Regions from separate parts of the Homo sapiens genome. Here region 2 is linked to region 1. Evidence: fine-mapped QTL for protein levels in blood plasma. A gene starts in region 1. The other region holds a variant in brackets. All regions are shown on one strand. Distances are between the middles of the regions.

The links. PIP is the chance, under the fine-mapping model, that this variant and not a neighbour inherited with it causes the effect. Sun 2018 read protein levels with aptamers (SomaScan).
Region 2: its variant is fine-mapped to the plasma level of the CBLN1 protein (Sun 2018, PIP 0.95).

Annotation. Positions count from the first base shown.
Region 1 is chr16:49,276,181-49,286,970 of GRCh38, forward strand. CBLN1 (cerebellin 1 precursor) reads right to left here and starts at 5,658. Exons shown (of 3, transcript NM_004352.4): 1 at 5,022-5,658; 2 at 4,743-4,862; 3 at 1,737-3,421. The coding sequence starts at 5,285. The coding sequence ends at 3,224. It overlaps SYNAGE (synapse stability regulating cerebellar lncRNA), which reads left to right and starts at 5,882. Exons shown (of 4, transcript XR_933530.4): 1 at 5,882-6,052. RefSeq lists enhancers at 54-579, 1,633-2,159, 2,160-2,684, 4,762-5,379 and silencers at 5,732-5,841, 6,212-6,311.
Region 2 is chr16:48,962,794-48,973,583 of GRCh38, forward strand. No RefSeq gene overlaps it. Among named protein-coding and RNA genes, the nearest start is that of CBLN1, 310 kb to the right of the region's middle. RefSeq lists an enhancer at 500-1,699. The variant C/T (reference allele first, on the strand shown) is at 5,205.

The sequences.
Region 1 (10,790 bases):
GCCCTCTGGGGCGTGGACGCCAGGTTAGCATGCTAAGGGCTGTGTGGGCTGCCTCTGCCCCATGGAACCCACACAGAGTAAGAGACAAGCTCAGCCCCAGATGTCTCCCTTCCCAACCAGCACAAAACAAGGCCTGGTTGGAAGGTGCAGAAGGGGTGTTGAACCTCGGGGAGCAATGCCTGTATGTGTGGGTAGAATATCTTCCCAGGGGAGGCAGCCTTTCAGCTGGACTTCTTGGGTCCTCAGCAGGATAGGATTTTGCAAAGCGGAGTAGAGAAGGGGTGCTTCAACTTCAATCAGGAACAGCAGGTGTGGAGGCATAAAGACAACAATGGGAGGTGGAATCATCAGATGGCAAGGGAAGGGGTCAGCAGGTGGAGAAAGAAGAGGGAGAAAGAAGAGGGAGGCTAGAGCCCAATCAAGAAGGTTCTCCGATACTAGGTTCGGACATTGTGGGAGGCAGGGATCCTTTCCCAGGAAGGAGGTCTGCTGAACTACAGCAGAATCAAAGGAAAATCAACCCCTCTTCTTCGAATTTGGGGACAATTCACTCCCACTGTACTCACTTTCCAGGCTGCAGAGCTAGGGCTCAGGAATGAGTCCCAGTTCCAGGATGCACAGGCTTCCCCTGGCCTGCACCCTAGCCCGAGGCTTAGCACTCAGGAGCTGCCACTTGGCAGCCAGGTAAGCACAGGCTGCAGCCAGGACTCACTCACCCAGGAAAAAGAATCTGCAGACTCCCGGTCTGGGAGCAGAGGAGGGCTGGATCCACAGAGCAGGAGGAACTCTGAGAGGTGTTTAGATTTCTCCCTGTCTTTATATAAATGGGCAAATTTAGGACCTGATAGCGGACTTGCCAAAGTCACTCCACCGGGACACAGCCTGGTGGCCCCACAGAACAGGCAGCCACGGAGACCAGAACCCTGGTGGTTCTTGCCCTCAGGAAGAGAGGTGACCCACCCACCTGCAGCCCAGGGAGCGCCAAAGCGTACAGGGGCAGCTTCCTTGAGCGGTGGCTCTCCAACCTTCGCGGCCCTACAGCCTCAAGCTTACACGCACCCTACTGACTATAGGGTCTCCACAAGCCCGGAGGGCTGGCCCTGCAACGGCAGAGCTGCTGGGTGGAGCTAGTTTCGCTGCCAAAGGCTCCAACTGTCTCCGACCTCTCCTTCCCAACCAGGAGACTTCGGAGAAAGCGCGTCTCTTTATTAAAAGCAGTTTTTCTTTAAATCCCTTTAAGGCCCCTTATTTCTTCTCATTCACACTTCCCTGGGGCCTAACAGAGTAGAAGGGAAACTGTTGGGCAGAAACAGAAAAGTACTCGGGTCCACTCCTCACTCGCGAAGTCCCTATCTATCTCTGTGGGTCCCGGAGGCACAGGGCTGCAAGGGCGCCCGCTAGAGCTGCTCCACGGCTTACCGGATTGCATGCGGAGAAGAAACGGGCCCGGGTTTCAACAGAGGCCCCGTGCTCCGTGAATTTCTAACTCGAACCAGCCGCTGGGATAAATCCGAGAAACGTTGTTTATTGTGCTATTATTAACTTTCCCTTCTCCCCACGCCCCTAGAGGAAATAAAATTCATTCCTGAATATTGGGCCAGGAAAACGTTTCTCTGAAAGGAACCACAACTGCAGGGGACCACCCGGCTGCAGCTCCCAGCTCCCGGCCCTTCGCCCTAGGCTGCCCACTCGCTCCGGCTCCCGACCTCCCCGCTGCCGAAGCAACTGGGTCAGCCTTTCAGACTTAAAACGAAGTCGTTTATTTCATTTTTGCTTTCACATTATGTTCCGATACAATCAAAACTCCTGGACGAACCTCTTGAATAAAGTCCTGTGAATGAGCGGAATCATAGGTCCTGGGCGCCCGAGTATGCGGCGGGTGGACTCCGGATTCAGAGGCGGTGTATAAAACATACGCTGCTTCGGGAACTGCGAGGGGGACGCGGTGGGAGACATCCGGGGACAGAAGGCCTGAGGAGTCTGCCGCTCCAGGCAGGGTCGTTTGGGTCCTCAAACTGGGACTATTCCTGATGCATTTGGAATGCAAAGAAAAAAATCAAACTTCGCTCCTGGGCCGGCGGCCGCGCCTGGCCTAGCAAGATTTCGGCCACATTTCTTACGTTTCCGCCAAAGCTGTGAACACAGGCGAATGCAGTGCTGGTCCCCGGCCTGGCGCAGGAAGGAGCGCAAGGCCGGCTTTGCAAGGAAGCCCTCGCGCCCAGGCCTTTCTATGGTTGCGTTCCCCCAAGTCTCCTGCCTTTCGGAACCTCGCCCTTTGGCACCCCAGACCCCCAACCTCGCAGCTGGGGAAGATGCGGATTTTAGAAAGCTGTTTCAGAAAAATAAAAGTCCCACTTCGACTTTATTAGATTAAAGCAAAATTAAACCTTGACTATTCACACGTATGTTACAGAGGAAGAGGAGGCGTCCGGAAGAAGCTCCTTGGCGTTTCGTGGAGTCACAGAGCACGACGGCATTGACAAGCATCAGAACATCAAGCAGCCTTAGATTTCACGATCACTCCGAATAGAACATAGAAATACGGAAACACAGCCAGTTTCCACTGGGAAGAGTTCTTCGTATACAAATGATATATATTTATATTTTTTAAACCAGTCACCACTAAGGTGAGTCCTTTCTCTGCTAACAAGCAGCCGAGGATACTAAGTATCTTCAGCTAATTAATTTGAGCAGTGTTTTAAGAAGAGCAACACTTGCCAAATTAAAACTACCTTCCCCATCCAAAACAAAACAACAACAACAACAAAACTTTACCCCTTTCCAAACTGAAAAAAAAAAGGTTGGGGGTGTGTAATATATCAGATTTCAGTAGGCAGAAGGATTCAGAGGGGGCTAGGGAGAAAGATTTCAGATTATGTAGTGAAATACAAAGTTTCTTTAAATAAATTGCAGGGAACATGAAGTTGGGGGATAAGAAACAATGACAAGGCAGTCTCTTTCTTGATTACTGCAACTGGAATGGGGGAGGCGAGTTTATTTTTGGAAATGGGAGTGCGCAGAGCTAAGCGAAATTTATTTCTCCTAATAAGGAAATGGACAAAGTTGTCCCACAGCTGGCGCGCACCTTTTTACCCAGATACAGTTAGAGAACATGTAGGAAGTTTCAAGTCGTGCTGCTTTCTCGCCCTCTTAATTTCAGCCTCTTTCTCACTCCCCTTCCTGCCTTCGCCCTCTCCCTGCCTCCCTTCCGGCTACGAGCCAGTCAGAGAGGAAACACCAGGAATCCGGAGAAGGTCGAGTACTTCCAGCCCCCCATCAAGTTTCCCCGCTCCAGCTTGAGGTATGCTCGGTCGCCTTTCTCCATTTGGATTAGGACTCCGTTGCTGGCGGCCTCCCGGGTCACGTCCTGGTCACCAGCGAAGGCTGAAATCACCGGCCACCCGTTTAGCATGAGGCTCACCTGAGAAAGAGAAAGGCCCGCTTCAGAGGCGCAACCTAGGCAGGCACCGAAGCCGCGGTGGAGCGAACCTCCTCCTTGCTTGGCTAACAGCCTGTAAGGCCTGGAAGCACGGAGAGGTGGGGGGTGGGGGGGGCGAATGGAGGAAAAGGGGCTTTGCAGCTTACTGCTGAGGCTCCAGTGGGGCGAAAGACCACACATCTGGGTGACAGGAAGGGCCTGTCCCCAAAACGGGAGTTGCTCTTATTCCAGTTTCTCAAATGAGCGCGCCAAGCGAATCTCGACTGTGCTCTGTGATCCAATTTAATAAACCCATGAGGTGGCTCTAGCGCCCTGAGACCTTTGACCTCTCTCCCGTTTCCCCTCAGCCTCAAAAAACAAACAACAAACAAAAAAAACCCAGCAACTCAGGCTCCTTCTGGCGCTACCGGAAAAACAAAAACGAACAAACAAAAAGCCCCTGATCCCTCCTGGACCCAGCTGCCAGGACACAGTGGAGAAGCCACTGTGATTTGTGATTAGAAGTCTCGCACCGAGCGGCACAATGTATTTCCTCCCCAAACCACGGGCTCAATTCCCTCCCCCATCCAGCCGCGCCCGCCACCGCCTGGTTTTGCCCCTGTGGTGGCACCGTCAGCCAAGGGCCTCGCGCCCTCTCCCCAGCTGTGCGTCCCACCTCTCTCGGCGCCCAAGGGAAACCTGGACATCTTTGGGGACCCGGAGAGCCGGCGAGTGATTGCTGGGACACGGCTGGAGCCGGGAGAGAGTAGCACTACGCCCCCTCCCTCCCTCCTCTCTCTACCCCTCACCCTCCGGGGCTAAATGCTGCTAGCTCAAAAACCCACAGTCCGCACGGGGTGGGGATTGGGGACAAGTGGGAGAAAACGGGGGCCCCGTCCGTGGTGCTGAAGACAAGCACGCAAGCCGCATCGCAGGCTTCTGAGCCGGGGCAAGGGGTAGGGTGTACTGTCGCGGTGCTTCCTGGGGAGTCCGGGAAGGCTTCCCAAGCGGCAGCTGTCTGGGGCGCTAACAACAGCCGTTACAAGGAAGTCCCTGAAATCCAGGGAACCCTTCGGAGAGGCCCGGAAGGCAGAAGCAGAAAATTCTGTCTCTCGGGGGATGGGGCTGGATCCCAAGAGCCAGAGACAGGGAAAGCAGAGGACAGTTGAAGCCACAGAACTGAGAGGCCCCGCTATCTGTCCCTCCAAGCAGCCCGAAGTACATGCAGCCGCCACTTCTGCCTACCACCTCCGGACAGCCCGAGCACCCCTGAGGCCAGTAACCCCCCTACGGGGCCAGGGCCCGGCACGAGGCGTCGGCTGACCTGTATGGTTTGTCTGTTGTAGACTTTTACCACGTGGAAGTTAAAACTGTAGATCCCTTTGCGCGGGGCGATGAAAGTGCTGCGTTCTGAATCAAAGTTGTTCCCAATGTTCACTAGTACCTATAACGAGACGGGAACGAAGGGGAGTGGGCAGGAATCGGTCCCGGACTGTCGTCCCCGCGCCTCCGCAGAGCCCTTGGAGAGGACCGGGCATCGGTCTTCCATCCATCCCTCCTTCACCAGCCCAATCTGCACGCCGCGGGAGGAAGGAACACTCACCTGGTCGAAGTAGATGATCATGGTGCGATTACTCATCTCGGACGGCTCGTGGTTGGTGCTCCTGATGGCAGAGAAAGCCACCTTGGCGCTGCCAGAGCGCACAGAGATGCCCAGGGCAGTGCCCGTGGGGTCGGACGTGGGGTTGGAGTCGCACACCACCAGGCACTTGCCCTCCAGCACGATGGGCTCCGTCTCATTCTGCCCGCGGGCCGGGCCCGCCAGCCACGCAGCCCCCAGCAGCAGCAGCTCCAGGACGCCCAGCATCGCGCCGCCGGCGCCCACCCCGCCCCCCACCCCCAGGGCTGCTCGCGCCAGCCGCCCCCCCCGTCCCAGTCCCGCTCCGAAGCCCCCTCCTCAGCTCCGTGCGCAGCTCCGCCGCCGCCGCTCTGGACACTACACCTCTTCCTCGCACTCCGGGACTAGCGTCCCCTCCGCGACTAGCGTCCCCTCCGCGCTGTGTTCCCGGAGCCCCTCCCGGGCCTCAGGGGTGCCGCGGCTGCCCAGCCGCACTTGGATGCATAGCCGCTGCTGCTCGGTCCCGCTGCTGCCGCCGCCTCCTGCCCGCACCCGCCGCTGCCGCCGCCGCCGCCGCTCTGAATTATTGATGCAGCCGGCGCTGCAGCCGGAGCGGGCGGAGAGCGCGCGCCGGGCACAAAGGCGCGGACCTCGGCCTGGCCCCGCCCCCGCCGCCTCCCGGCCCGCCTCCCTCCGAGGCCCTGCCCCCGCCCCGGCCGAGGCCACGCCCCCCAGCCAATCCTGACGCGCCGCGCTCCCCACCGAGCCAATGGCGGCGCTGTCCGCGCTCGGCCACCTGACCCCGGGCGCCGTTGTTATTAGGCGCGGCGAGGCGGGTGGCGCGCGGCAGCAGGGTTGGGCTCTCGCCGTGAGTCGACGAAGGGAGCGCGGGCGCGCGCCCGCGTCCGCGCACTGAGAGTCGCCTCGGCCGCTCGCTTTCTCGACTCCCGCCTCGCGCCTCGATCCTGTTCCGCCTCCCTCGGCCCTCCTGCCCGCCCCCACTCGTCGGCCCTCAGGTAGGAGGCGGCGCGCCCCGGGGTCGGGAGTGGAATCGCTGGAGGCTGCGAGTCGCCTGCCCGCCTGTGGGCGCGCCCGTTGGGAGGGGAGCGCCCCCCAGCGGGCGCGGGCGCGAGGGCAGCCGGCGCGCTGGGCGAGCCTGGCTCAGGGTCCCGGCGGCCGGGGTGCAGGGCGCGTGCGCGCGCGGCGGGGCGGGGCCTGCGCGGCTCTGGCGGGCGCACGTGGTGCCCGGGAGCTGCTGGGCGGGCACTCACCGCGGGGACTCGGTGCGGAGCCGGGGCGCCGAGTGTCTCCGTGTCCCTCTGCCCCAGCCGGCGGCCGCGATGGTGGAGCTTGGCCTCTCGCTCTCTCCCGCCTCTCCAGCGACTGCTCTGCCGGCCGCGGAGGTCGGATCGAGCGGTCATTCATTCATTTGTTAATTCGTTCACTTATTCAGGGGAGATCATTGAACCCCTACGGAGTACCGGGTACTGGGCCGGGCGCTGAGGACGCGGGGCTGAGCAAAAGCAGCCGAGGCCCACCTTCGTGCCCCTTAAAACCCAGCGTGCGGGGCGGCAACGAGTACTGCTTTTCTGTTTTGCACTTAAAATTTACATTTTGCATCCGTACTTTTTATTTACTGTGCACCCTTACGGCATGCTTTACGCACCCGTACCTGCACCTCCTAGCCTTGAGTGTAGACACCAGATCCTGAGATGGGCGATTTTTCGAGAATAATTTTTACCCTAAGTGGATTTTCGTGCCACGCATGGACTTGGAACTACACACACGTAGTCCAAAACGTGAAAGTCAAAATGCAGCTTTGCCAAGTGGCAGGGAGAAAGGAGAGCTGAGAAGATGAGGAGAGGAAGGGCGCGCTCCAGGCTTTCCAGCCCGGGTGCGGTAGACGTAGCCCTGAAGGATGAACCCAGGCTGGTAGTAGGGCGGCGGGAGGGCGGGGGGACCTGTCAGTCAAGTCCAAAGCAGAAACGCGGCGCCGGATCCCAGTCAGAGGCCGGCTGGAACGCTTCCCACAGGCTCCTGGCGCTCCGGTCCCCACCAGGCGACCTTGATCCTGGCGTGCTCAGCGGAGCCAGCGCAGCGTCGGGAGCTGGAGAGACGCGGGGCGCCGGCTGAGCGCTCCTGCCCTCTGCCTCTGGGCTAGCCTCTGGCCCGGCCTCCCGGCCTCCCCCAGGGTACGCTCTCCCCCAAGAGCGAACACCAGCTTTGGGATCGCCAGCAGCCACGTCTCTGCTTCTAGATCTCTTTTTTTTTTCTTTGAGACTTAGTTGATAGCTGTTTAAGGAATTATGTGGAGGAAATCTCACCTCCGACCCCCGCCCCCGTTGAGCACGGCCGGCCAGGGTCGCTGGGTGGGCCAGGAGGAAAGAAAGGGGCGGGGAAGAAGCAGCAATTTTACTTTAAATTAAAATGACACAAAAATATTTTTTCAACTCAGATCTTTCTGAGACATCCCCAGAAAGCGTTGCAAGCTGTGATTACACCTAATGTGAGAGCATGAACTAATTTAAGAGGTGAGAGCTGCATAATGAGGCTGCCTCCCGTGTAGCAGCCAAGACTGGCAGCTCTGGCGGCGCGCTGGAGGGGACCGGGAGGGGCACCCTTGTAGAACCAGTCCCTGGCGCCCTGGGATCTTCTCAGTGCCCTGGCGCTGTGTTGTCGGTCACTCCACAGATATTACAGGGTGCCTCCTGAATGCCGGGTTGCAATCAAGAGCAAGAGATGGGGCGAGTGAAAGAGCCTGTTTTCAGGAGCTCAGCATCAGGATGACGATTACCTAGAGGGAGGTGGTGGCCAGCCTCCCCCTCTTCTCTTCATGCTGAGGCTCTGGTGGGCAGTGCCCAAGCCTGAACTGCCATCTGTATGCCAGTGGTTACCCAACTTGTATTTTCAGTCTTAGCCTCTCTCTGGTCCAGACTTGTCATTCTAAGGGCCCTTTTTCACTGACTCACATTGTCTCCTCCCTCCCTGCCTTCCAAACTCAGCCTTTTCCTTTTTCCCTTTCCCACTGACAACAGCTGCACGACCCCCCCGCCCCCCCACGAGGTGAAAATTCCCAAGAACCCCATGTCTAACCTAACTCCCTCTCTATGTCCTGTTGCTTGAGCCATTCTCATTAGGCTGCCTGTTCGGAGTTCATTATCTCCTAATTTTTCATCCAGGAATTGATGAAGAATCACCTACTGCCTCTCCCACACACTGTTTATTCTTTCATTTGATGATATCTGTTAAGTGCCCTGAGATATGTAACCTCCACTTCCCTCCCATATAAGTGAGATTTCACGTTGATTACTTCCTTGGCTTTCCTCATCCCTTATCCACATAGCATGTGTTCAAAATAATGAATATTAATTTAATGTTAATAGATATGTGCTTTCCTGAATTGTGAGGATTAAATGAAATCATGTATATAGGGAGGAAAATCCATTAGAAACCTCAAAAGCAGTTATGTTTATTTTTGCTATTGTCACATTGTTAGAGTCAGAATTCTTTTAGCTGCAAGTGACAAAACCAACTCAAACTGGCTTAAGGACTTTATTGGTTGATGCAAAAAGCCTCGGGTTAGGTCTTGCCATTTAAGGTAGGGCTGGATCCATCAATCCGGGTTACCAGGATCTGTTTTCTAGTTGTGGCTTCATTTTCAGACAAGTTGTTTCCATATGATAGCCTCATAGAAGGTACTACCAGCTTAGTCCTAGCAAGAAAAAAGAGTACTTACTCTTCAATATTTGCAGCAGAAGTCCCAGGTCTGTTCTTATGAGGGCAGTTTGAGTCACTTGCTCTTCTCTGAACGTGGAGAAGGCACTGTTTAGATGATGGAGGTTGGATTCAGGTGCATCCCCTGGAATGGGGTTTGGCATTAGCTTCACGTGGTCTAGAATAAAGGGGTTCTCCAAAGGAAAATTAGGGTAGGAATGCTGAGTAAGCAGAACAAACAGATGTCTACTTTAGTCCTTCCCAAAGGGTGAGCTGCAATACATTGCAGACTATCAGAATGGTGATGAACACGGATGCAGTAGCCAAGAAAATAGATGTGTGTTTGTCGTGGTCTTTTTCAGTCTTCAAGATCTCAGTTAAACATGAAGTCAACCACTCACTATGATGTTATTTGAGGTTTAGCTTTGAAGTGGAAATGTACCACAAATAGTAGAGCCAGATAAATACAAATAAATAATTTTAACAGTCCATTCTAAAAGATTTCTTTGGTAATATTCTGTTGGAATTGATTTCTATCTTTTCATTTGTTAGGTTCCTGGAAAGTGAAAATTTCATTTCTTTGTGGACAGGTACCTAAAATGTCTCATTATTCATCAATTAATGAAAAACAAATGAAAATTTGAGAGAGATATTCTGAAGAATAAAAGGATCAAGTTGGGTCATTTCTAAAATGTAAGATTATAAGGTTTAACTTGCTAAGACTTTTGAGGGGTTGAATTATTGGTAAATTATTATAGAACCACTTATCTGAGGCTTTTAAAAGTGATGTGTTACAGAGATTTAGGGAACTGCAAGATTGCAGATAAAGAATTTATACTGTCAACTGTTCTATACTTTACCTTCTGCTTTAAATGCGGCCTTATATTTTGAAGTCAAACATTTATTTTCTCTCACTGCGTTCTGAATTTCCTACCACAGTGCATTTTGAGAAATGAATATAACAGCAGTCTTCATAGATGCCATATTCATGGCAACTCTGTCCCCCGCCAACACCACACCCTGGAAAAAAACCAACTTTCTATTGTTGGAATGAGGTAACATTTTCAGGAAAAGGGAACCATTTTCTCACAGGATATAGAACAAATTCAACCTTTTATTAAATCAAAATGGATTCTCTAATGTTTATACATATCATATAGGATTTCATCTCTTTCAATCTTGGTTCAAAGGCCCAGACAGTACCATTCCCTAGTATTTAGTCCATTTGCTCATAAAGCAGAAGAGAAAAGCTACTTTGTTCCGAAGGGTGTTAGATTTAGGATTCCAAGGTTATTTCAAATTAATGCCTGGAACTAGACTATAAAATGCAGGAAAGATTCTAAGTTGTTCAAAGATGAAATATCTTAACTTTCACCAAAAACTCTGTCTTCTGGGTATTTTTTGTTTTTCTGCCTTTCCAGATTTATTTTAAATACAACATTTTTGCTGTTTACATTTTTAAAAGTTACATTTCAAAATTGTTCATAATTGGACACTTTCATAAAATGTAGGCAAATGCAGTTTTACTTTTTAATGAAGGACAAGTCTGTTGATAACATTTTGATTCTTAAAATTTTTTTTATCTTATAAAAATGAAACAATGCATTTAAAGTGTCTTCAGCTCTTATGTTAATACCAAATTATACATTTTCTTAGCCCATGTTCAGGAGAGACAATATATCTTCCAAATTAAGAGAAGCTGGCACCATTTTTAAAACAAGGCCTTGAATCTGCTGTGGTATGTGCTGGTAGGAATTTTGTATGAAGCTGTTATTGAAGTAGATGACATTAAGGTCAAAGGAAAAAAAAAACAGAAAATAATGTAATCCTACAGAGCTGCTCTTAAGATCTTGAGAGAAAAACCACGTAGGTAACATCAAACACTAGTTGGAATCTTTCCAAGAAGTAATTATCTGTGTGCTGTTTGTGGTGGTTGATTATGGGAACAAACCAAGGTTTAGCCAATTCAGCAAACATTTATGGAGTGCCTGCAATGTGCATGTCACTGTTTTAAGGCCTGTGCCTACTGTAAAGGTGACC
Region 2 (10,790 bases), 310 kb before region 1:
CAGGAGGATTGCTTGAAGCCAGGAGCTTGAGACTAGCTTAGGCAACATAGGGAGAACTTGTCTCTACAAAACAAAAAACAAAAAAATTAACCAGGTGTGGTGTTGCGGATCTGCAGTTCCAGTTCCAACTACTTGAGAGGCTGAAGTGAGAGGATTGCTTGAGCCCAGGCGTTCGAGGCTGCAGTGAGCTATGATCATACCACTGTACTCCAGCCTGGGTGACAGAACAAGACCCAGGGAGGAAGGAAGGAGGGAGGGAGGGAGGAAAAGAGGGAGGAAGGAAGGAAGGAAGGTAGGAAGGAAGAAAAGAAGGAAGGAAGGAAGGGTGAAGAATAGGACAGCACAATGCAGGCCTTAGTGGAACTTAACCCTACCCTCCATGCATCCATCGAGGCATGATGAGGGCCTCGCTGAGTCCCTAAAAGGGTCTATCTCCTATGCCTTGTCCTGCTTGAACCATCTCAGCCTTCAGAGCTAACATCATTATTTCAGTCCAGATTATGTTGGATTTAAATTTCTTCTTTATGTCAAAGCCCAAGGAAACAATCCCAACAAGCTGTCACTTAAATCAGAGGAGATTTATTACTTTTAACCAGGGAGAAGCTTGTTACCAATGGAGCAGCTTAGATGTCATGAAGATGGGGGCTGGGCTTGCAGTGCCCTTGGCTGCCTGTCAGGGGCTCATCAGTCATCAACACCACTCATGCCTTTGAGGCACAGTCATCGAGGGTGAGACAGGCTTATGACCCTTGCCGTGGAGCCTTAGAAAGAGAACTCAGGGTCCTGTCCTCAGAGGGAGAAGGACTTTAGATCTATGCACTCTGGCCCCACATGTCCTCTTGTTCCTTAGGATTTGTTTTCTCATTTCTGCAGAACTAGAAGACTCTCATTTAAAATGACCCTGGACGCTTATTCTGTGGTCAGTCCAAAGTGTGAGGGGGATGGAATTGTCCCTCCACAGGTAAGCCCTCGGGGAGGGCTGGCCAAGAGGGATGCTTGCTGGACCACAGGAAGATGAACAGGCTGGGATTGGCTGTTGCCCTTCACAGTGCTTGTGGATGGTACAAGCTGACATAGGGAATTAGAAGGCATGTGCCGTGCATAGAAGAAGGGGGGTCTTTGTTCTGTCTTTGAGTGAGAAAGACACCTCTCCAGTATCTCTTTAGGCTATGGACCAGGGATATTCCTGGCAAAGGCTGTGGTGGGCACAGCATCCAATCATTCAGAATGGCAGATGCCAAGTTTTAAAATGATGTCTGGTTGTGTTTGTGCTGAGTGTTAAAAACACAACTGGTAGAGAATGCAGGAAGTCTCTTGGCATCTGGGAGTATCTGGAAATAATCTCTGCCTCTCTGAGTTGTGGTCAGGACTCAGACTTAATAGATAGGAAAGTGTCCTGAAACTGTGAGGTGCCATGTAAATGTAGTCTTGCTATTATACAGGAACAAGCGGGAGGAGGAGTTTAAACTGGGCCTTATCTCCTCTCACTAGGTAGGAAGGCCTCCTCCAAGGTCATGAATTCTCATCCAGGTCCTCATATGCCTGCAGCTAAACTCACAGTTCTCTAAGGGTAGGGGCCATGCCTTTCACCCCATTTAAGCATTCCTCAGTGCTTAGTAAAACACAAGGAACACAAGAGAGGCTCAATAAATACCTGTGGAATAAGCTCATCATCTGCAGAAGGAATGAACTGTGGAATTAAAACCACAATCTATTAAACAAAAAGGGCCATCCTTACAAATGTGCATGCCTTCAGGGATCCCACAAATAACCTACACAAGTGAGGTGGACTGGGTAGAGCAATAGGGAGTGGTGGCAACTGGGGGGAACTGGAGCACCCCAGTCTCTTCTCTTCAAGGCAGCTGCTTCTCTTCTTGTTTGTCACAAGGGAACATATACTCAATGATGCCAGATCTTCTGAGTATTTTTTTTAATCCTGAAATATACATTTTAAAAATAATGACTCTCTCCATTTTTAAAATGTAGACAACTAAATCAAATATAAAAATAAGACAAGTATTGTGTAGAGCACTCAGCACACCTGCCAGCCAGGCTTGGTGTGAGGGCCATCCTACAGGGCCTCACGCTTCTCCCACTGCTCCTTTTCATGGATGGGGAGACCAAGGCCCAGGGATGGAGAGCCACTTGCCAGAATGCAGAACTGGTGACAGCAGATAGTTGTGATGGGGAGGAGAGCAAGTGAGTGGTTGGGAGCATCCATGTGCCTTCTGGGAAGGTGAGATACCTTTCCTTCGCTCATGGGGGTCCCTGAATTTTGTTATTCAGCCCCCTCTAAGAAGGCTCTGGAAAGAGCAGCCAGGGCACCGGATCTCACTGCCATGAGCGGTTGTCTTTGTGCACTAACAGAACTCATCATGGGGCTTACTCGCCAGGAGGGCCTTGGCACCAGCAGATGGAACAAGAGGAAAAGCAAGAGCTGTGATGCCACAAAGGAAAGGGGCTTCACCCCATTGCCTTGGACCCAGCGGTCTGGAAACAGCCCTGCAAGCCCGCTAACTCTGTGTAGACAGATGAAGGAGGGACGGGGAGGAGGGACAAGGAAGCCCAGGAATGAGTGTAGCAACTGCCATGAGGTGGTCCCTCCCCAGTAGCCCCCTCCCCTCCATAGAGCAATGGCTTGAAGCCCAGGAATCATTGGTTTGCCCACAAATCCAAATGGGATGACATGCACATCGTCTGATTGGCTGAGAATGGCTTGTTAATTAGGAAATCAAATCGGGGCTGCACACTCAAAGCTGTTTGTCGGTTTGTGGGAGTTTGTTTACTTTGCTTTATTGAGTGGGTGGCTCTTGCCATCATGATAATAGAGAGCTGATAAACAAAGAAAACACAGGAAATCATTTGGCCTTCAGCCCAAAATGAAGGCTGGAGGGAACCAGGGTTTCAGTGCTGGAGGAGGGGACAGCAGCTGTTCTAGCCTGTGCAGGGAAAGACTCATCTCTTTTTGGCCAGAACAGACCTCTGGGCCCAGGACGCCACCCCTGCTTCTCATCACAGCCCGAGTCCCTGCTGATAATCAGGTGTGGATGTAGGCTCCAAGGGGAAGCTTGTCCAATTGTGGGATCCTCTTTAAGAAAAAAGAACACGAAATTAGATATGAAAGTGAATATTGATTTAGAGCAAAAAAAAAAAGAAATAATGAAAAAAACAGTTTAAAAGCTGACTTAGATAGTGCTAGTGGCTTCCTGAAAGCTATACAGCACCACAGATGGGCACCACAAACATCAGAAAATCCAAAAAATAGCATGACGTTTGTATTCATTAACTGCTGACACACCTCTAAAATATTTTCCAAATTCTCTCTATGTATTGGCTTTATACTCTTTGATTGCCTCTTCCCATGACAATGATTATGTGTCTATAGGGAAATTAGAAAGATCCTTTTGCAGAAAAAAACTTCCATTTTGATGAGGCATCAGCAAAAGCCAGCTTCTTCATTTCCCATTGCACATGTCTGAGGATTAGGGGCACAAGCCACAGACTAGCTTCTAGGACCTACACTTTCTCACTCTTTTCTGGGGTCGAGTGCATTTGGGCCTGTTCATCTCATGATGTGACCTCTGGCCTTGTTTCTTCATGTCATGACACAAAGGGAGCGAGTAGAGATATTCCTGGAAGTCATGCCTACACCAGAACAGCTGGCAAAAGCTAAAGTCTCCATGAGATCAATTGAAAACTGTGTAAATATATCCCCTTATGTTCATGCTAGATGTAACTCTGACACAACCTCTTCCCAGTCAGATCCCCAAATGCCCACACTTTCCCAACATCGCCTGGCAGGAGCACATGGCCGGGGAAAGAAATAGCGGAGTCAGCTGATGTGGTTCAAATACCTTGCTTTTGCAGGTTGTACAAAAACATCTGAACATGTGAGCCCATTGCTAGTGCCTCTCCTGGGGCCCTGAAAAGGGTCAGTACATGTGAGGACCCTGGAAAGGGTCAGTGTGAATGAGGGTCCTGAAAAGGGTCAGTGCATGTGAGGGCCCTGGGAAGGGTCAGTGCGAGTGAGGGCCCTGGGAAGGGTCAGTGCTTGTGAGGGCCCTGGGAAGGGTCAGTGCGAGTGAGGGCCCTGGGAAGGGTCAGTGCGAGTGAGGGCCCTGGGAAGGGTCAGTGCGAGTGAGGGCCCTGGGAAGGGTCAGTGCGAGTGAGGGCCCTGGGAAGGGTCAGTGCGAGTGAGGGCCCTGGGAAGGGTCAGTGCTTGTGAGGGCCCTGGAAAGGATCAGTGTTAGTGAGGGCCCTGGGGCTTCATCAGCATCATGGTGACTTCCCTTCCATTAGCAAACAAGCTCTGCCAACTCTTTTGGTTCTCCTCTCCTCCACCTCAAAGCTTCTCAGGGTTGGCAGAGTGGAATTCCGATTCCCAGCCCTGGCACAGGCTGGCTGTGGAGCTTTCAGGAAGCCACTAGCCTTATCTAAGCCACAACCACCCTACCTAGATGATGAGAAAACTCCAGTTGCGAAGAGAAGATGAGTTTTCTCCCTTCCATTGGATGCATCTTTTGCAAAGGGAAGAGCAGAATCAGGCTGAATAAGAAACAGCACCATTTTAGGAGCTGCAACTGACCTTTGAGATGACTTAGCTCAGTATTTCCCAAAGACTATTCTGTGGAACACTGGTCAGCTGTTCAGACAACAAAATGTATTGAACACCTGCTATATAGCAGACACTGGTCTAGGCCATACAATCATAGCAGTGAATAACAAGACAAGGCCTCTGCCCTCACCAAGGTTATATTTTAGTGAGGGGGTGGGGAAGGGAAGACCTTTGAAAAAAATAATACTGTTTCAGGTAAGGATAAATGGCTTGGAGAAGACAGTAAACCAAGGCTAGAATGGAGGTTGAGGCTGCTAAAGCAGGTCTGGGGTGGTGACATTTGAGTTGAGGCCTGGATCATGAGGGACAGCCGTGAGAAGCCCTACCAAAGGGGTGATCAGGTGGGACCCTGTCCACAGCAGTCCTTGCATGTTTGCAGGGCAGACAGAGGCCAGTTGTGCTGCAGCACAGAGGATAATAGAGGATAAGAAGAGATGAGTTTGGTAAGGGAGCTGGAGCCAGCGTGCAGGGCCTTAATCCCAGGTAAGGAGTTGGGATTTTATTCAAATGGAGCTGAGAAGCCATTGGAGGGTTTCAAACAGGGGTATGATGTGATCTGTGGTGAATTTTCACAAGATTATTCTCACTG[C/T]AAGAAGAGTCTTTTATATGGATTTAAGAGCACAGCTGAGACCAGTTCAGAGACCATTGTGTCAGTCAAGAGAGATTAGGGTCGCCGCGCTAGGTTTATAGAGGTGAAGGTAGAGAAAAATGGTTGGATTCAGGATGTATTTTGGAGGCAAAACCAACATGATTAATATTTGAACTGGCTGTGGAGTGCAAGAAAAATGAAGAATTCAAGGATGACGCCTAGGTTTTTATTTTATTGGTCTGAAAAGCTGGGTCAATTTTGGTGCCATCTGAAGGTTGAGGAATGTTGAAGGTCAGGGTTTCCATGTTGGAGCAGCTGATTTGGGAGGTACACATTGCTGTGTAACAAATTACCCGAAAATGTAGTGACTTCAAACCACAATAATGATTGATTGTTCTAACAGCTTCTGTGTGTTAGGGATTTGGGGTGCTTGCTCAGGGTGTCTGATGAGGCTGCAGCCTTTTGAAAGCCTGATTGATGCTGGAGATCTGCTTCCAAGGCATCTGTCTCACATGGCTGGCAATTTGGTGGACATCTCAGTTCTTCCCTGGGCCCCTCCAGGGGGACTGAATGAATGTGTTTATGACATGATGGCTGGCATCCCCAGAGGGAGCAAGGTGGAAGCTGCAAAGTTCTTTATGGCCTAGTCTTGCAAGTGACATGCAGTGACTTCTGCGATATCCCATTGGTCACACATGTCAGCCCTATTCAATGTACGAGGGGACCACACAGGGGCCTGAGACATCCATGCCCTTTCTTTGCACATCTACTGACCTGTTTCAGCTGCAAGTGACAGAAAACACAGTTCAAGCCAGCTTAAAATGAAAAGAAATTTATTGGCTTACACAAAAGGGAAGTCCAATGGAGGAGAGATGCCCGTTTTGTGGAGCTCAGATGGTGTCGTCAGAACTCAGTATTTATTCTTTTCTTTTCTTGGCTCCCATTCTTACATGGGCCAACTCCTGAAGATGGTGAGGTGGCAGCAGTCTCGTTAGCTTCATAGTCTCACAATGCCAAGTCAAGCTGAGAAGACAGCCTTTCTTTCCCAAGAGTTTGAACAAAACGTCCCAGACCTAATGACCATTCCTACTGACTGACTTAAAAGCCAGGATGAGGCAGGGCGCAATGGCTCACACCTGTAATCCCAGCACTTTGGGAGGCCGAGGCGGATTACTTGAGGTCAGGAGTTCAAGACCAGCTTGGCCAACATGGTAAAACCCCATCTCTACTAAAAATACAAAAATTAGCTGGGCATGGTGGCACACACCTGTAATCCCAGCTATTGGGGAGGCTGAAGCAGGAGAATCGCTTGAACCCAGGAGGTGGAGGTTGCAGTGAGCTGAGCTCGCATCATTGCACTCCAGCCTGGGCAACAGAGAGAGACTCTGTCTCAAAAAAAAAAACAAAAAAAAACCCAGGGTAACACTGAAATTTCATGGAGATAGGAAGTGGGGCCAGATCTCCCAAAACACATGGATCAAGAGAGAGACAGAGCTGTCTCTGTGTTCTGCAGACACTGTGGTGGGAGAAATCAAGTGCTCATCCATATGGAGCTCACAGTCTGGTGGGAGAACAGATACATGCATATATGAATAATTAACATACGGGTGAGAAGTGCCATGCGAAAGGGGCCAGAGTGTGCTTCAAGAGGACCTGAGAGAGGCACCTGATTCTGCTTTGGAGATGGCTCTCTGGGTGAGGTCACACCTGAACTGAGTCTAGTGGTGTAAGAAATCACTGCATGAGCAAAAGTCGAGTCAAGAAATAGCAGAGTGGGGGTGAGTGGAGGACTACAGCCAGTTCTCTGTTTTTAGAGGGTTACAGCAGAAGTGACAGAGAAATGATCTGGCCTGGGAAGCTAGGCTTGGACCACTGCCAGGCTTGGGTCACCCCAAAATGCATGTGTTGGAAACTTAATCCCCAAAGCAACAGTGTTGAGAGGCAGGGCCCAGTGGGAGGTGTTTAGATCATGCGGGCTCCACGCTCATGAATGGATTAATGCTGGTTATAAAATGGTTTGAGGCTGCAAGTTTGATCTCTTGCTCTTTCTTTGCCCTTCTGCCATGGGATAACACAACAAGAAGGCCCTTACCAGTTGCCAGCCCCTTGATCTTGAACTTCCCAGCCTTCAGAATTATGAACCAATACATTTATGTTAATTATAAATTACCCAATTTCAGGTTTCTGTTACAGCAGCACAAAACAGTCCAAGACAACAAAGTGCCTTGCATGCCACAGTGAGGAATTTGGGCCTTTTCTTGGGATGCTGAGGAGCCTGTGGTTAGGCGGTGGACCACCCCATCAAGTTTACATTTTCAGTAAGTTCCTCTATCAAAGAGTAGAAGCAGATTAGCCAGGGCCAGGGCTGAACTTGGGGGTTGGCCAGTGAGAAACCGCCATGGTGATGGTTGAGGCAGGGGGTAGGTGGGTCTGAAGGCGAGCGGGCCCAGTGAAACGGATGAGAAGCTGTGAATTCGGAAGGCAAGGTGAGATCACCAGCCAGCACTGGTGATTGGCTGAAAGGGAAAAGAAAGACCCCTGGGTTCCTCGGGCTGGATAGTGGGTGAGGAGGGCAGAAGTGAATCCATTTCTTGGGAGCTGCAAGTCCAGCTATCTATGCCTGTCCCCAAAAAGCCCTGGCATGTGTCCCAAAGGGTCTTTACAAGGAAGTCCCCTGCAGTGCTCTCTGTGACTGAAAAAAATAAAAGTAGAATACAGCCTAAATGTCCTGTGATAGGGAATAATTAAATTAATTACGGTATATCCAGCTTGTAAAATAATATGCAGCAGTTTAAAAGGCTGATATTTACTTGAATAGGAAAAGAGTGAGTTGTCAAATGATATATTGACTATAAAGTCATTTAAGTAAACAAAACAGACAAACATGCATCTACATATCTATATGCGTGTGTTCACATGCACATGCCTTTAAAAAGATCTGGCCTCATGCAAACCAATCAATAATGGGGCTCCCCTCCAAGGAGGGGACTGGGGATGGGATGTGGTTCAGGGGGTCTTTAGCACTCTCTCTAATGTTTGGACATTTACAGTAAAATGGCTATTGAGTTTAGGGGCCTATAGTACCCCAAGTGGAGAAGTCCACCAGGCAGTTAGATATATAGTTCTAGGGCTTAGAGAAAATCCAGATTGGAGGCTTATTCAGTAGGTCCATGTTGCAAAATGCCATAGTTTCAGACTCTTTTAATCAAGACCGCTTTGGTTGCAAGAAACAAAACCACTTAAGCTGCTGTACAGCAGAAAAGGGAAGATGCATTATGAGGACACAGATCTGAGACCCCCAGGCAAGTAGTTTCAGGGCCAGGTCTCAGCAACATCTAGAACCAGGAGCTGCAAATCTACCAGGGATCCAGGCCGTCGTCCTGTGATGTGTGCTCTCCTTCCGGTCTGGGGAGGGCTTGTTAAAGATCCTTCCCTGGCTCAAAGCAAGGGGTTAGCTTAGATGGGGCCTTTCCATCCCTCCCAGCCCCAGAATTCTAGAGGTTATAAACTATGTCCCTAAACCTCACAGCCTCCCCCTCCCCAGGGGGAGAAGACCCTCAGCCCCTCACCTGAAGCAACCAGGCCGCCACCTCCCTCCTGCCAGCCCTGATCACAGCAGTGTCTGTGCTGTCCCCTGGGGGTGCCACACAGCTTCCCCCGCTCCTACCTCCTCTGTGCTAATTGAGCCCTGGCTTGGTTGCATCTGCTTTGCTGGCAACTTCATAGAGACTAAAGGGAGGCATCAAGGAAAAGGGGGGAAGCTGCTGGAGGCTTTCCTGTGACTCACTGCTAATAAAGTTGATTAGACTGACAAGTCTCTCTTGTCTTATTCCTGACAGCTTGTGTCCTCATTTTGATTTTTCACCACCACCCCTACCTGAGTCAGGAGTGGAGATTAGCCCAAATTAAAGCTCTGGTGACTCAGGAGAGGTGAGACGTGACAGCAGAGGGGGCTGAGGGAGGGGGAAGGTGGGCAGCTGACGCCTCATGGGTGGGATGTGGACAGGCCCAGGCAGGCCTCCTGGAACCAGTGAGGGTGTCCCTAGGATTGGCTTTCCTTCTCTCCATCTAGGGAGCTGGGAGGATTGGACTGTTTTTTTATCTGGCCATAAAGGGAAGAAAGTCCATGAATAAAGCTTGTGGGTGTTTTATGTGGCTCTGCCAGTCTCAGGAGGATAATAAACCTTAATCAAGACCCATCTCTACAGACACCTGGGAACGTGAGAAAAATTATCTCCAATATGAAGTTGTACATTCTGCCCTTGTCACCCTCTTTAAGAAGTACTGGAGCTGGGGCTGTAACCCAGCGGTTTCTAGGTGTAGGCTGGCCAGAGGTGCACAGGGCTGCTACATGTAAGCCCCTGGGGGTAGCATGGAGCCTTTCTGCAGACCCTCCATGAAGGCCTTCTTAAAGGTTCCTGGCTGCTTACAATTCCCAGATTTATCACTTAGCTGCGAATGTTGGCAATTTGACCCCAGGCTTTCTGTTTCCCCCGGAGAATCTCAATACCAGAGACCTCTCAGATCGCTTCAAAGAGCACAGATAGTGTGTGCTCCATCACTGGAGGTAATCAAGCTGGTCTAGGCAAACACTTGGAGGAGACTTGAGTAATGACTCTGAGATTCTTTCCCAAGGGGGCCTCTGGGACATGGTCATGAGTGGTGCAAGGTTAGAGACAACCAGGTCCATGCATGTTTTTGTCTTTCTGCAATGTCAGGTTTTTATTGATGCTGCTTCAATCACAAAAGCCATAACCTCCTCTTCAGGACTTCTCGTTCACTCAGGAGTCAGAGCCCACAGGCACACAGGATCAAGCCATTCTTCAAGTCAGTCAATATTGCAAACCATATATAATAGTATGCTTAATATACACATGTTCTAGATTGAACATTCCACAGTAAACAAAATAGCATTTAACACGAAGAGGAAAAAGGAGAGTAAAGGTTAATGAGCCAGTCCAGGGAGAATGAAGAAAACAAAAGGAGTCCTTGTCTGGTACTTCTTCCATGGGTCTCTCTGTCTGGGAAGAAGAGTCCTGGATGTGGCAGAGCCTTCTGGCTGAGGCCAAGTTCTTATCACGAGTAACTGCAAGACAGTGCCAGTGAAGACGGCCATTTTGAGCTGCAGAAGGCCTGCTCTTTTTTTTTTTTTTTTTTTTTTTTTTTTGAGAGAGAGTTTTGCTCTTGTTGCCCAGGCTGGAGTGCAATGGTACGATCTCGGCTCACTGCAACCTCTGCCTCCTGGGTTCAAGTAATTTCCTGCCTCAGCCTCCCAAGTAGCTGGGATTACAGGCATGTGTCTCCACGCCCGGCTAATTTTGTTTTTTTAGTAGAGACGGGGTTTCTCCATTTTGGTCAGGCTGGTCTTGAACTCCTGATCTCAGATGATCCGCCCACCTTGGCCTCCCAGAGTGCTGGGATTACAGGTGTGAGCCACTGCGCCTGGCCTGCTCTTTTATAGTCAGAGTCCTCTGGCGAGAACAGATTGTGGGAGAGTGCACTTGTGTGTATCCTTATCTGGTTGGATGCAGTCTTTATTTTTTTTATTTGTTTCTTAAGTGAAACATCTTATCCTCATTGGCAAAG